Regions from separate parts of the Homo sapiens genome. Here region 1 is linked to region 2. A link means that fine-mapping ties the variant in region 2 to the expression of a gene that starts in the linked region. Tissue or cell type: whole blood. Region 2 holds a variant in brackets; the other region holds the start of a gene. All regions are shown on one strand. Distances are from middle to middle.

Region 1 (8,000 bases), 110 kb after region 2:
GGCCTGGTGAGGTGTCTCATCCCTGTAACCCCAGCTACTCAGGAGGCTGAAGCTAGAGGAATGCTTGAGCCCAGGAGTTTGATACCAGCCTGGGCAACACAGCAAGACCCTGTATTTACAAAAAAAAAAAATTAAAAATTAGCCCAGTATAGTGGTTTGAGCCTGCAGTCCCAGCTGCTGAAAAGGCTGTGGTGGATCACCTGAGCCCAAGAGTTTTGAGGTTGCAGTGAGCTATGATCATACTACTGCATTCCAACCTGGATGGCAGAGCCAGACGCTGTCTCTTAAAAACAAAAAACAAACAAAACATTTAAGGGGGAAAAAATAAAACCTAATGGGAAAGAGACTGTGGGACCTTGAGGACATTCGGAGAAGAATCCAGCAAGTCCTAAAAGTGGGTCCAAGTGGTAAAATTACCTCCTCAGCCATTTCCTGAGGACCTGCCCTGTCTGACTCAAGGCACTGGGCTTTCCATCCCTCTATAATAATTCCTATATTCATTTACTGACTTGCATTCGGCGTCTAGTGATGTGGCCAACATGGCCAAGTCTACAGGAGCTGTAGGAAAGGCTGGGCCCAAGGTTCTGGAAACCCAGAATTCTCCACCAGCAAAGACTATCAATTTCAATTTGCACATCTCCCTAAAAACCTCTCATTTTCTTCTTTATTAATAACTCTCCTGCACCATGGCACTGAGGGCCAGTTCAAGCTGGCTCGCCTGACCAACAGCTGGCCAGACAAGGCTGGTGCCCAGTAACCACAAGGCAATCCTCCAGACCCCGAACGAGCTGATGTGCCTGCAAAGCAGGCTTCTGAATAGTACAGCCTTCCACCCCGCCCCCACATAGGGACTTAGGGAATGCAGCCCGGCCAGACGGCAGGTCGGAGCCGTGCACCACAGGAAACCCCAGCTGCAAATGGAAGATCAGTAACTGGAAGTACCTAACACAAACAGGACAGAGTGCCCACCACAAAAAGGCAGCAGCTCTAAGAGCCAAAAATAGCCTCACTCGTTTGAAGAGGATTTTGACAAACCAAGCACATTCAACTCCTCCATCAGCAGAAAAAGAAAAATCAATGAAGCAGAAAACCAGATGAGCTTAACAGGGACCAGGACTCCAAAAGATTCCCGACAGCCTCACACACACACCCCAGCCCACCCTTTCCTTACCCCAATGGCAAACTGTGTCTGGATCTCAAAACATAGTCCCATGACCCAAAATGCCTGATGGTATTTGCATCTAGCACAGAAGTTAGGCGTACAATCCCATAGTTTTAATCTTAGTGCTAGAATCTGACCACAGATTGGGAGCCCCAAATAAGCACCTGTGGGTGCTTATCCTTGGCAAGATGAGGCAGCAGGAGCACACTGGAGGGTCAGCAAATGGGGCTGGGTTACCACCATGGAGGAGCCTGGTGGTGAATAATCATGGGTGAAGCCTCCCATCAAAGCCAGGCAGATCAGAACGGGTGTGGCTCTGCTTCACCCCCAGATAAAATCTCCATGCAGTTGATTTTCGGTGGCCCACTGAGTCACAACTGCCTGTCGCCTCACTTCCTTCTAATTCCTATTCTCACCTGCTGTGACTTGTGTTCAGGACTGCTGGTTAGCAAGCAAACCTGACACTTCTATGGCCTAGGAGCAGCTAGCATATCTCAGGTTTCACAAACGTGTCATATAACCCCTCCAGAACAGGATCAGTGGGGTGGCGGGGAATGCCCAAGACATAAATCAGTCCCTGCTAACAGCATCCGATGTGGGCGCTAGAGATGACTCCGGCTTTTATGCCATCCTCACTGCCCGGCATGGAGAGAGCACATAGCAAGGAGGTTACTGCCTGAAGCATCTTCCTTCAACTCACAAGCTGTACTTCACAAACACATTGCTCTAGAACCAAAGGAACAAACCACCTCCCATCCCTCACAAGACCATCCTCAACCCAATTCCATTCCAAACACTAACAGTATGCATTCAGGAAGGAGGAGGGGATGGAGTTTGTTCGGGTGCAGGATCCGCGTGAACCACAAGTGCACCTGATACACTCAAAACTATCCACTCCTCCCTCCCAACTTCTGTTTTGTATCCCCTACTCGTCTATGGTTTTCCTCCCCCGTGCAGGTGTGCCCACGCACGTGGCGTGAGGAACTCACCTGCGTCTCCATGGAAGGCGCCCTCGCCATCGTTGGGCCAGATCTGCCCGGTCTTGCGGACGCCCACGATGGTGGCCTCGGACACGACAACCGGGCAGTGCCGGTGCCGCTTATGGCACTGCGGCGTGGGGGGACTGCTGCTGTCGAAGGACTGTTGCGAGTTCTGCGAGGGAGAGCGGCTTTTGTCCCGGAACATGCGGTAGGTGGTGGGGCTTGGGGACACGCGGCTGGACTGGCCAGAGGAGAAGTCCTCCTCGCTGGAGGTGAGGTTCTCATTGGAGCTGCAGTCCGGGGTATAGCCGCCTCCGCAATCCTCAAAACTCCGGGGGGAGTAGGACCTGCGGGGCCAGGTAAGGCGCTTCTCCTGCTCAGAGGTGCTCTGGCTGCGCAGGAGCGGGCCCTTGCCCTCCCCTTCCATCATGCCCCCGACGTAGATGCTCTGGTAGGGCTGGTACTCCAGGGGCGGCCAAGGGGGCCTGCTACCGCCATTGGCGTCGATCAGGTTGTCCTTCAGGAAGCGGGGGTTCAACTCGGCGTCCTCGTAGTCGCCGTCGACGCCGCAGCTGCTCTCCGAGGAGCGTCCCCGGTAAGGGGGCCTGGATGCATCCCCCACGCTCGAGCCCGCGCCGTGCTGGGACTTTTTGCGCTCCATCTGCATGGCCTGGCTGCCCAGGGAGCTGATGCGGTCCGACACCTCTTTGTCGTTGACCTTCACCAGGCCGCGCTCGTGGTGAAACTCGACGTTCACGTAGAAGGGCTTCTCGGCGTCCGCCCCGGGCTGGCCATGGCCCTTGCGGATCCGCTCGAAGTTGGACCTGAGCGCCGCCACGCTGGCGGGGGGTCCCCGGTCGTCCCGTTCCCCCGACGCGGCTGCCCCGGGCCTGCGGGCGGTCCCGGGCCTGGCCTTACCCGGAGAACCCTCGCCGTCGGGCCGGGCCTCGGGCTCCTCGGCGGGCGGCGGGTCGGCTCCGTCGGCGGGCGCTGGCTGCGGGCGCGACGCGGACGCTCGGGGCTCGGAGGCGCCGTCGGGGGCCTGCGCCGCGCGCCGGAAGCCCCATCGCTGCCGGTCATAGCTCTTCTTTTCCTTGGCCAGCAACGTCTGCAGGTAGATCATGCGGAAGCGCTCCTGGTTCACCTCCTGCTCCAGGCGCCGAATGGAGGCCTTGCAGCGCTCCAGCTCCTGCTCGATGTCGCCCACTGAGCGCAGCTCCATGCGCGGGGGCTCTGAGTCCGGGAACTGCGCCTTCCACGCCTCCGCGAAGCCCACCGGGTCCACCATGGCGCGGCCGGCCTTACCTGCGCCGCCGGGCTGCGCGCGGGGCCCGTCTCAGCGGCGGCGCGGCGCCTCGCCAGCCCGGCCCCGGGCGCCGGGCGGCCCCCATGGCCCGCGCGGCGGCGGCGGCGGCGAACAATGCCCGCCCACTCCCTGGTGGCAGGTGAGGCGGAGCGGGGCGCTCGGCGCGCGGGGCGGGGCGCGCCGGGGGGAAGGGCGCGGGCTGCGCGCGCCGCTATTGTGTGCGGGGCTCCTCCGCACGGCGAGGCGCGGGCGCTGCTCTCCGCTCCGCCAGGCCGCCGCCAGACTCTGGCCACGGCCCGCGCGCTCCTCGCCTCTCGCTTCCGCACCGCCCCACAGCCCCGCCGCCGCCGTGCCGCCGCCGCCGCCGCCGCCTCCTCGGACGCTAAGCTCAGCCAGCCGGCTCTCGCCGCACTCCCGCCCGGCCCGCACTCTGCGCCGCAGGAAGGGGAGGGCCGGGGGGAGGTGGCCGCGGCGCGGATGACGGAGCCAGGCGGGCCTCTTAAAGGGGCCGCGCCGTGGGCACAGGGCGGGGGGGCCCCCTGGAGGCGGCTCCCCCATCGAGCCGCCACCCTCCCCCCGTCCCTGTGCCTTTTGGGAAACTGAGGCCCTAACAACAGCGAATTGGACTGTGCAACTCGCAGCCCAGGGGTCCCCCGTAAAAAAGACACCGGACTCCCTGGTCCATAAAGACCTTTCCAATACAGAGGTCTGGGCCAGTTCTGCAGTCCTGGAACAGGAACACTTGGCTCCCCTCCGGCCAGGAGGACTTCTCCGGCCAGTCCAGCCGCGTGTCCCCAAGCCCCACCACCTACCTCATGTTCCGGGACAAGAGCTGCTCTCTCTGGCAGAACTCGCAGCAGTCCTCCGACAGAAGCAACCTCCCCCCTCTGCCCCTACCACGCCGCAGTGCCATAAGCGTCACCGGCACTGCCCAGTCGTCGTGTCAGAGGCCACCATCGTGGGCATCTGCAAGACCAGGCAGATCTGGCCCAACGATGCGGAGGGCACCTTCCATGGAGACGCAGGTAAGTTCCTCACACCTCACAGCCTGGCCTCTCACCAGCCTCAGGGCTGGGCACACTAGGGACCACCCAGCAGGGCCCAACTCACAGAGAGGCCAGGACCAGGCAGGTCACCCCGCAAGGCAGGGAGGGCCAGGCTGAGTAACCAATGCCAGCACCCTTGTTTCAGCGGGCCTCTCACGTTGTGGATCTGCTGTGGGTGGCTGCCACACGGGTTTGTCACAGCAGGACCACATGATGGATGATAAATAGGGATTTCTCCCTCAGGTCACTCAATACCCACACCTGCCTTCCTGTGTGCTGAGCCATGTGTTTGTCCCCTGGCCTCTCTTGAGCTCCAGAGGTCAATGTAGTTTTTCCAGGACGACCTGACTCAGAACTTCCCTGATTAGCCTCCCTCTAAGGGGGCGGCCAACCTGCACTGAGGTTCACAGGGCTGGGTGGAAGACAGCCCAGAGCAGGGAGTGAAACAAAACCTTTGATGGTTCTCTGGGGACACAGAGATCTGAGACACAGTGGAGAGCACTCTGCAGGGACTCTGATGGGCACAAACTGAAAATACCCAAACCAGCCCGCTGGGTTGGGGGAAAAGGAAACAGGATTTGGCAAATGAATTACTGGGCTTGAGTCCTGACCACCTCTCCCTCTCTGCCTCAGTTTCCTTGAAGTGAGAAGCACATCTGCCTCCAAGTGCTGTTGTCCCTGTGTGGATGTTAGGGATTATCATGCCCTCCTCCCAATGCCAGCGTCATCTGGAGCAGATACTTTGAAGTCCAATCTAAAGGACTGAGCCCAGGCTAGTAGCCAGGCCAGCCCTGCTTGGGTTCAGGGCTTCCTGCCGACTCCTGGCTGTGTGACCTCAGCAGTGTCTCTCTCAGCCTCTCTGAGCCTCAGTTTTGTCATCTGTTCTTCATGTGCCCAATCCTGCTTCCTTTTCCCCTGACCCGGCAGGCTGGTTTGGGTATTTTAATTTTGTGCTCATCAGACTCCCTGCTCTTTGCCCTGTCTCAGATTTCCAGGCTTCCCTAGAGAACCATCAAAGATTTTGTTTCACTCCCTGCTCTGAGCTGTCCTGTCTTCCACCCAGTCCTGTGGGCCACGGTACAAAATGTTGAGAGCATCCTGCATAAAATGCCCAGATGGGGCAAACATAAAACACAACCTGATAAATGGTGTGTAGGGGTCGATTTCGTGATTGCCTGTTAATATTAGTGCCCCTGGAGAACATTCCTGCCCTGGAAAACCCATGGGCCCCAGTTTCTAGGCTGGGTGGGCGGTGCGCAGCTCACTGCTGCCCTCTGCAGGCCTTGCTAACCTCCTGCCATCCTGGTCCCTTGGACCCAGCGGACCTTCTCATCCCCTTCCCATCAGGCTGCAAATAGCCCATTTTGCATGTGAGGAAACTGAGATGCAAATGATGCCCTGGCCACTAAAGGGGCTGGAATCCCAGTAGTGCCATACTGAGCAGTGCTCTCATCCTCAGTGGCCTATTTTTTTTTTTTTTTGAGACGGAGTCTCACACTGTTGCCCAGGCTGGAGTGCAGTGGAGTGATCTCTGCTCACCGCAACCTCTGCCTCCTGGGTTCAAGTGATTCTGCTGCCTCAGCCTCCCAAGTAGCTGGAATTACAGGCGCCTGCCATCACGCCCAGCTAGTTTTTTGTATTTTTAGTAGAGACGGGGTTTCACTGTGTTGGCCAGGCTGGTCTTGAACTCCTGACCTCGTGATCTGCCCGCCTTGGCCTCCTGTAGTGCTGGAATTACAGGTGTGAGCCACTGCACCCAGCCCTCAATGGCCTCTTCTTTAAAATGGGTATGATAAAGGCAGGCACAGTGGCCCATGCCTGTAATCCTGGTGTTTTGGGAGGCCGAGGCAGGAGTATCGCTTGAGCCCAGGAGTTCAAGACCAGCCTGGGCAACATAGTGAGACTCCATCTCTACAAAAAAATTTAAAAATTAGCCTGGCATGGTGCCTCGTGCCTGTAGTTCTACCTGCTCAGGAGGCTGGGGTGGGAGGATTGCACTGAGCCTGGGAATTTGAGGCTTCAGTGAGCTAGGATCACGCCACTGCACTCCAGCCTGGGTAACAGAGCAAGACCCTGTCTCTAAGTAAACTCTGAAGCTGTTTAGTTTGAGTTTGCATGCTCTGTTCTCTTGGCATAGCAAATGGCTTTTTGTTAGGCACAAGGACACGTCCAGATAGTGGCTTTCTCCCTTGTGGGACAGCCTCTTCTGGCCCCAAGGACACTGTTCTCTCCTCAGGACTTCCCTGAAAGCACCCCTATCCTGAGCCTCTGGGCCTTTCCTGTAGAGTTTTCTTATCATCCATCCCTCCCTAGGGAGGAATGCAGCAGGGCATGGGCATGGGCATGGGGTTTAGACACACATAACACTCTGTAATCCCCCACTCAGTGTCTGTTCCAACTAGATCTAAACTCTGCAAGGTCACAGACCTGTTTGTCTTGTTCCCCTATGTCTCTCATATAGTGAGCTCAGAGTAAGTGCTCAACCAGGTCTGGTGGAATGAGGAACCAGATGTGTGCATGGCCTGGAGGGCAGATAGGTCACCGAGAGCGATGCCTGTGTATGGGGGAGGAAGTGATAAGGCATTCACAGCCCGGCTATAGCAAAGGTGTGTGTGTCCTGTGGGAGAAGGCACAGTTCGGGGAAAGGCTTGCCAGGGGAGGTGATGCCTGAGCTGGTCCTAAGGACAAGGACCAGGTAGGCAAAGGACAAGGAGGCTTCAAAGTTCTGTTTGAGGAGCAGCCAGGTTGGGAGATGAGGCTGGTGTAGGCAGTAGGAAGTGGGATCAGAGGTGAGGCAGGGCCTTGTAGGCCTGCACAAAGTTTGGGTTTTATTCTAAATGCAAGGAAAAGCTGCTCAAAGGTTCTAGACCTGCACTGTCCGATAGAACTTGCCAGTACCATGGGCATGTTCTGTAATCTGTGCTGCACAATGTGGCAGCCACGAGCTGCCCCGTGTGATTACTGAGCATCTGAAACGTGGCTGGGGCAGCTGAAGAACTGAATGTTTGGTTTCGTGTTAGTGAGTTTCAATGGCCACCGTGGCTGCTGTACTCAACCGCACAGGAAGCGGGGTGACTTGCTGGGGTCTGTTGCATGGAAGGTTGGGCGTGGGAGGTGGGAGTAGGGGGAGTGGTTGGGGATTGTGGCAATTGTTTATGAGGAAGGCATTGGTGACCCAGAATAGGGCAGAAGCAAGGTACCCCAGAGAAGGGGTTAGAATTCAGGAGCATTCTGGAAGTAAAACTCATGGGACTTGTAGATGGAGTGGGTGTGGGGAATGAGGGATGTTGGGGTGATCAGACCCAACACCAGGCCGTGGGGGCGACAAAGTCTGGCGGAGTCAAAGGAGTGAGAAAAGGCAAGAGAGAAAGTGGGACCAGGGGGCCAACGCTAGTATAGAGGCTGCAAAGGCCTCTAGCCCTAGGAGCCTATGCTATTTATTGGTGATCAAACAAAGAAACAGGTGGTGAGGATGTGGGGATTGAAAGGAAGCGGTGTATCAAGCA
Region 2 (8,000 bases):
GGTGAGACTATTCTGTAAGATATTATTATGGTGGATACACGTCATTCCACGTTTGTCAGAACACATAACATGTGTAACACCAAGAATGAACCCTACCTAACATCAACTATGAACTCTGGGTGGTAATGATGGGTTAATGCAGGCTCATCAACTGTAACTCATGTCCCACCCTGGAGTGGGATGTCCATAATTGAGATGGGGGGCAGGAGGTACATGGGAACTCTGTTCTTTCTGCTCCATTTTGCTGCAAACCTAAAACCGCTCTTTAAAAAATGAATTATATCTAAAAGGAAACAAAAGAGTGATCCTTGGGGTTGATACAGGAGGGAGAGGGACTTGGAGGAAAAACTGCTCCCCGAGCTCTCCAGTTGTCTGCCGTGGGTGCGTGGTGTTAACTCTCTCCTCCATCACCCTGACGGTGCTGTTGGTGAATCTGCGCTTCACACCGAGGCGTGTGCGCGCATGGCTTCTTGGCGGGGAAATGGAGGAGGGTGCGGGAAGAAGCAAGCAGCAGGAATTTCTGAACCTGAATAGGGGAGGGGGTGGGTGTGTGTGTGCGCCAGGAACATGTGAGTGTCCCCAAGTCCAGATCTTCATGGACAGTGAGGGTGGTGGACGTGACCTGCTACAATCTAACCCTCATGTCTTCATGCCTCCCCGGAGCTTCCGTGGCTGCCTGGCACCTGAACCTTTTGCACACTGCCTGGCACCCTCTCTTGTTGTCTCTGCTGGGTCGTGGCACTCTTGGTCTCTGCAAAGGCTTCTTCGATGGATCCCCTGTGGCTCTTATACCCCCTCTCATCACAGCTGCCACTCAGCCCTTTCTGCAGGGATGTCCAGAGCTACAATGACCAGGTTATTTTACTGAGCTCCTTGTGCCCTTGTACTATTCAAGCAACATGTCTAAAATGATCAAAGAGTAGTGGATGCTGAGAAAGGAGACCTGGGTTCCAGCCCCACTGCTCCATCCACCAGCCTCGTGACCCGTGTAGACCAAGCAGCCTGGGGGCTCTTGGCTTCCTCCTTCGCAGGAGCAGGGGTGGGAGGCAGCTCTCTGCAGGCCCAGCTGGCCTCTACCTGCAGCATCAAGAATGAGACCTTCGAGGTCACAGCTGCTGCAGAAGCTGGGAAATGGCACCTCTCATGGATCTGGGACTTAGTCAATACGGGCCTCTCTGCAATCATTCCCCTACTCCCGAAGGTGCAGGGCCAAATGGCTAAGTGACTCACACAGCAGCTCTCCAAGGTGGAGGAAGGCACGGCGACACACAATACAAACCCAACACCCCGAGACAAGCAAGCAGGACCCTACAGTCCCTGTCCCAGCCCCACCAGCAGAGCCCCAGGCTTCCGGAAGCCAAGAGGGTCACGGGAGCTCATTCCAACTTCTGCGGAAAAACACTATGGAAACCTACCAAGTAAACATAAGCGCTAACAAAGGCAGACAAAAAGCCTTTTTAAGTCTCTTTCCAAACACTTCTCCAGCAAAATAGGTGGCTTCTTTGTGATGACAGGGATGGGTAAGGTTTTCAGGAACAAGGAGATAAAATCTCTTGGACACGTCACCTACTGGCCCCCCAGGAGATTCCTGGAATTCAGCAGCACTGCCTTCGGGGGAAGCCCTCAGGGAGCCCCTGAAGGTTTAGATTATCTCCAGTGGAAAATATCCTGTGCCCCACCTGGCAGGCTGGGCCCTTGTGGAATCAGTTCCTCACCTCGTTCCAGTTTGGCTCAGCTGTGTCCCTGTAGACGCGCGTCTTTGCTTTATTCACAAAATACCCAAAGGAATCCACCTCCAGGGTGCAGTACAGATCTGTGGGGAGAAGTGGACATGGAGAAGGTCACAGGTCTTTTCCACATCACCCACATGGTCTGTAAGAGCAGGTGTTATTTGCAGAATCAGAAAAAATAAAAATAAAAAAAAAAGGTTGTAACTTTCTTTTTAAAAATTAAACACCTAATTGTGGTCTGGCGTGAACACCAGCACCTCATGCGATGCCCCTGCCCGCTCTGTGGAATTTCCCTGGGTGCGGCTGGGAAACGGGACTTCCCACAACATTCGTTCACTCAGTCGATCCACAAACCCCAGCTAAAGCCCCTACGATGAGAAGGGCCCTGCACTGGTGGGGACAGAGAGGTGTACACGCCATTGTTACACAGTGATGCCACAGCAGAGGGCAGCCATCCTGGGGGATGTGGGAAGCCCCTACAATCAGAGCAGACCCCGCTGTACTATGGGGCAAAGAGTTAAGGCAAAGGGGACTCCAGGCCACTGTGGGGCACAGGAAGCAGCTCAGTGCTGGAGAAGTCGTGGGGTGCAGGGGGAAGGGAGGGAGGCGAGGCCTGGAGAAGAGTGGGCTGGGCTGTGGGCGGTAAGTTGCAGGGTGGGGTTTGCATTTTAGAAAAACTACCTGAGACTGGGGATGGAGAGGCCTGGTAGTGGGGACCCTTTCTGCAGGGATATCCAGAGCTACAAAGACCAGGGAGGAGGCCACAGCCAGGGCCTGGCCAGGCAGCCAGAGATGACTAAGAAGCCTCACTGATGGAGAATGGCATTTAACGGAGGGAGAGCAGACCACGGTTTCTGGCTTGGCCATGCGGGTGGATGGTGGTGCCCCTCAAAGGGACAGGACATAAGAGGAACAAGTTTGGGGTCCATGAATAATAGGTTTGGTTTGGGGATGCAAGGTTGAGTGCACGGGGCAAGGAAGAGATAGAAAGAAAGGTAACAGGGAGGCAAGGAGAGACAAGCCCGGGACCACGGGGCAGCGTAGGGTGTCACGCTGTATTGCTCACAGACAGGACCCGGGAGGAGATGCAGGGATGCAGGGAGGCCCACGAGGGAAACACCAGCGTTTATGAGGCAGCCAGAGACAGGGGCCCAGGAGAAAGATTATGTTATGAAGGTGCAATCTGCATGTCATGTAATTCATCCATTCCAAGTGTAGGGTTTAAAGAATTTTAGGAAATGTAAATGTGAGCGCAAACAGCACCACAGTCTTTTCACGACACTGCTCTCACCTAAAAAGTCCCCCTTGGGTTCATCTGCAGTTAGTCCTCTCTCCCAACCCCATTCCCCAACAATCCCTGGTAAGCTTTCTGTCTCCACATTTTGCTGTTTCTAGGAACTTTTTTTTTTTTTTTTTGAGGCGGAGTCTTGCTCTGTCGCCCAGGCTGGAATGCAGTGGCACAAGCTCGGCTCACTGCAACCTCCGCCTCCTGGGTTCAAGCGATTCTCTTCCCTCAGCCTCCCAAGCAGTTGTGATTACAGGTGCCCACTGCCTAGCCCGGCTAATCTTTGTATTTTTAGTAGACACAGGGTTTCACCATGTTGGTCAGGCTGGTCTCCAACTCCTGAGCTCAAGCGATCCACCTGCCTCAGCCTCCCAAAGTGCTGGGATTACAGGCATGAGCCACTGCGCCCGGCCTCGAGAAACTTACACAGTGCAACTCATGTGTTACCAGCCTTCACTGTTCTGACAGCTCCAGTAGCTGGGGGAGACCCCCACTTAGAGGGAAAGGAAAAAAAAAGTAGTATCCATCCAGCTCGACAGAGCAGCCAAATCTGCTCTGCTGTGGGGTGAAGGTGCACTGCTGACAGCCCTCCTGGCTTGGACCCCACACTCCCGGGCACCCCTGGGGATGTCTGTCAAAGTCCTTGCCAAACCCCTGCAATTACTCGATCCACCTGCAGGGGGCAGCTCACCAGCTCCCAGGATCTGAGACAGGCTAGGGGAGAGGGCAGAGGCCACTCCGGGAAAAACAATTCCACACCCAGAAGGCATCAACCAGCACAAACACTCCACAGCGGCCAGGGTCAAAGGTGTCCCGTGGTCATCTGAACAACCTCCCTGTTTCCCCACACCCTGCCCGATGAGTCCTTCCTGGGTGGAGACCCTGGCTCGGCCGCTGCAACCCTCCTCCCCAAACCAGTACTTACTTGAACTCTGCTTAAATCCAGTGGCTGAGTGGACGATGACATTCAGAAACCCATAGAGCCCCGGAGACTCATCATCTGCGCAAGAGATCAAAGAGGTCAGCTTCTGTTGTCCCGGGAAAGGGAGGCAGGTGACAAGCTAACTCTGCTTCAAAATCAACCATCCGGTGGACACTGTGTGGCTGCCATCTGCCTGGCACAAGGTAAGCCAGTGTCATGGGCCAAAAACATACTCATCATGATTTCTGTCTTGGGGATCTCAGGATCCAG[C/T]TGGTTTCACAATACAGGCAAACCAGTGACTCGAAGTGTAATAAGGTTCCAAGGACAGCAGAGGGGGTCGGGGTGATGTGGGATGTGGGTGGGGTGTGTGTGGACACATGTGCATAGCGTATGCTGTGTGTGTGACTGAGCATATGTGCAACAGTGAATGCAAAACAGCTTGACCAAAAGTGCCGGCTGGCAGGTAGCTGGAGGAGAGGAGGGCTGGGAGGACGGGAGTGGGGCCAGATCCAAGGCACAGAGCATCTGAGGAGCGTCTGCTGCAGCCTTGTGACTAGGAACAGAAGCCGTGCATCTCCTCAACCACCCAGCAGCAGCCACTCAGGGAGAAACTGCTCCTAACCCACCTTGTCCACTCCTGGGAGGAGACAAGAGGCCCTAACAAGCATAGCTCTTCCTTCTGAACCAAAGTCCACTAGTCCCATCAAAAGTGCTAACAGGAAGGGGGGATCAGCCTTCAGGCTAGCTGCCTGCCCTCCCTGCAGGTGCCCTGTACACGGAAACGGGGGGGCCCACCTTCCTTATTGATGGTCAGCGGAATGCTGTGGACAGTCTGGAGTTTCACACACGAGTTGGTCAGCATCTGCAGCTCCACGGATGTCAGGGAGAAGCTTCTGAAACCTGGGAGGTTGGAAAAGAGGTGCACCAATTGGTCAATCTGCTCCTTGGCCCTCTGGCCCCTCCCACTGGACCTCCACCACACACCCTGGGGAAGGGGCACGGCAAGAACTGGTGCCAGGGCTTGGGGGCTCAGGAGAGGGCACTTGGCTCTCAAGTGCAGTGCTGGTCTGGCGGCAGAGTGAGGTGTGGCCCTGGAGAGCCCAGGCCTGGAGGAGTCTTAGCATGAGACTTACAAACACACACATCCCACGCTACCTAAGCACAGCCACAAGGCAGGTCTGAGAATGAGTGGCTGGACTGGGAGCACCTCCCTGTGAGGTCTCCCCATACAGACAGCAGCATGGCTCTGCCCGTCCTCTGCTAACACAGGCCCCCGTTTCTCCACCAGGTGAGGAAAAGGGGCTTATTTCTGGGCATAATGCTGAACAGGGAACAGAGGCTGCCACTCTGGAAATGGCTGGGGCTCCTATGTTATGACAGGAAACCCTGGGACACAAGCACTGGCAGGGCTGCCCGGAGATCCTTGATCCCCCAGGCCACGGTGGCATTGGGGGCCGAGAGGTGGCTCTGCATAGGTGAGAATGATGAGCCTGAGGGCGCGGGAGGTCAGGCCAGGCCAGAGGCATGCAGAGCCCCAGCTCAGGGTGAATCCCAAACCTCCAAGGAGGGAACCGGGTCTGCCTTCCCCACCGACACTGCCAGGCAGGACCCGAAGGAAGGAGCGCCCTGACAGAGGGAAGTGCCCAGAGAAGGAAGGGGCTGCCCCAGACAGGAGGGAGCGCCCCTGAGCTGAGAGCGGGCAACCCCGGCCATATGAACAGGGCAGTGGGGCCAGCACAGTGTGAATGCCCAAGTGGGCCCAGCCAAAGGCCCCTTTAGCATCAGCACCTGCTGGGGCAGGGAAGGCCCAGGGGGCGGGGAGTAGATGAGGAGAAATGGGGGAGGCCAAGAAAATGGGGTGGTGGCAGGGTCCCAGAAAGGACTAGGGGGCAGGCCGGGGGTGCGGTGTATGGGCAGCAGACTAGGGGGAGATGGCAGGGGTGTGTGTAGGGGCAGGTGTGGAATCTGGAAAGGGCCTGGGGAAGGGGGATTCACAGGGGATCACAGGGCAGTGGGGAAATGAGTGCCCAGGTGATGGGGGCAGGATAGGCTGGCAGGGGAACAAGAGGGCTGGGGGCCTATCGGGATGGCTGTCGCCAACTTCTTTTCTAAATTAGCCCTCCATGCAACACTTCACTTGGATAAAACCCCTCGAAATAAAAAAGAAGGTTTAAAACCACAGGAGCTGCCAGCCTGGCCCTAATGGTTTGAAGCCCAGCCCCTCTCAGGACAGAGGATACTCACACTTCTTCTGCTGCTCCCGGATGTTCTCCCTCCACTCTGCACGCTCATAGTCAGAGGAGATCAGGAACGTGTAACTCTAGGGTGGGCAAGAAGAACACACCCAGTTATCTCCGCCCTGGCTACGCAAATGCCTGGTAGGCCCGGGGCACCTTAGAGCACACAACTCGTATCTCCAGCCGGCTGGAGCCCAGTGGCCAGGTGTGCTCACGGCCTGGCATGTCGCTTCCGGCACTCCCTACCCTTCCTGCCAGCTGGGTGCCACAGCACCTCTGGCACACCATCTCTCACCCGAACTACATGGGTCAGGGTGTGATGCTGGCAGAGGGGCACAGCTTAGGGACATGGAGGTAACCAGGTGGGATCTGCAGAGGTGAACGTTGATCCAGACCTGACCTCCTGCATTCAATTCACAAGCCCCACACTAGCCCAGAGGTGAGGCTTCTGCAGAGCCCACCAGCTGCCTCTCCTGGTCAGGCTAGAAAACAAGCCATTCTGGACATTGACAGACATGTATTGACAGGAGGGAGAGGCCCAGGTTACAGATGGCAGCAGGAGCCAGACTCAGGACAGAAGGTGTGTCTCTGGCCCTCAAGGCCCCAGGACAGCATCCCTGTACCAAGGGCCAGATCTGCACAAACCTGCTAGGCTCCCCTGCCCTATACCCTCCCTGGAGACCCTGTCCACTCCCAGCTGTGGGAGCTGAGCCAGCTGCCACTCAACCTGGGGGCTACAGCCCAAAGCCCCAGACAAAGGAATGTGCGTGCTTGCATGCACCATGCCGGACATGCCTCTCTCAGAGTGGGGCGCATCCAAGTGAAAACGCACTGCCATTAGGCAACCAGGAGCCCATCCCAGGCCAGGAGAGCAGGAGGGGCCGGAACAGCAGGCGCTCACCTTGCCGTTGCGGCTGTGCACCCTGAAGGCCATGCTGGGAGACATAAGCAGCAGCAGTGACTCCTGCTCCGACAGCTTCTTCTTCAGCCTCTCCGTAGCCTTGCTGCCCTTGTTCGCCCTCTGTGGGGAGATGCCACAGCCTCACCTTCCCATTCCAGCGCTCCACACAACCCACTCCCATTCCATCCATCCCCACCACCAGCTGCATTCAGCCTGCAGAGGGCAAGAATCCCATCTCTCCACTCAGCACAGACCAGGGCCCCAGACCGCAGTTGCTGGTGGCCTCTGGAGGACAGAAACAGCTTTTTTACAGGGTCAAGGCATGGCATAAGCTGCAGGACATGCTCAGTAAACCTTTTTTGGAGGAATTAAGTCTTTCCTCTCACAAGGGCGGAGAGAAGAAACTTTTACCAACATCCCTGCCTTTCATTTTCCCAAATTCAGACAATGTCTAGGAGGCTGCTGTGACCTACAGGGTCCCTCACCCTCTTCCTAATCCAACTAGGTTTCAGCATCGGGCCCCTGGGCATGTTTGTGGAGATGCCAGCAGAAGACCAGACGACCGTCAACAGAACCTGGATGGGAAGGCCCTTCCTATGCTGAGCCATGGGTTTCACTCTAGAAGCCACTATCCCTGGGGAGGAGAAAACTGTGCTGCCTGTCACCAGGTAGGGCCCCACCCCATCCCATCCCCCAAAGAGCTGAACATGGAGAATGCAACAGTAACAGTCAATAGGGCTCAGCTGCCCTGAGCACTGGCTCCCACTCTGTGTGGGGACACCCTACCCTGGAGGTCACAGTCCCACAAGGATGACAATAGAATGTTCACCCCAGTCTTGAAGCTCCCTGTGTTCCTAAGTGTGCTGGGTTTGGGTACAGCAGGCTGGGCAGCTGGGCAAGGGCTGAGGACCTCCTGTCCTGCTGC

What was found. PIP is the estimated chance that this variant, and not a neighbour inherited with it, causes the effect.
Region 1: it holds the start of BCR, and the variant in region 2 is fine-mapped to the expression of BCR in whole blood (TOPMed, PIP above 0.99).

Annotation. Positions count from the first base shown.
Region 1 is chr22:23,176,391-23,184,390 of GRCh38, reverse strand. BCR (BCR activator of RhoGEF and GTPase) reads right to left here and starts at 3,882. Exons shown (of 23, transcript NM_004327.4): 1 at 2,152-3,882. The coding sequence starts at 3,430. It also overlaps a transcript of RSPH14 not described here and the pseudogene BCRP8. RefSeq lists silencers at 3,352-3,431, 3,452-3,721, 3,792-4,031, 7,436-7,535 and enhancers at 4,152-4,962, 7,923-8,000.
Region 2 is chr22:23,286,354-23,294,353 of GRCh38, reverse strand. BCR (BCR activator of RhoGEF and GTPase) reads right to left here. Exons shown (of 23, transcript NM_004327.4): 11 at 7,076-7,195; 12 at 6,182-6,257; 13 at 4,733-4,837; 14 at 3,941-4,015; 15 at 1,716-1,813. LOC107985554 (a long non-coding RNA gene) reads left to right here and starts at 3,826. Exons shown (of 3, transcript XR_001755448.2): 1 at 3,826-4,140; 2 at 7,581-7,743. RefSeq lists an enhancer at 1,942-2,121. The variant C/T (reference allele first, on the strand shown) is at 4,208.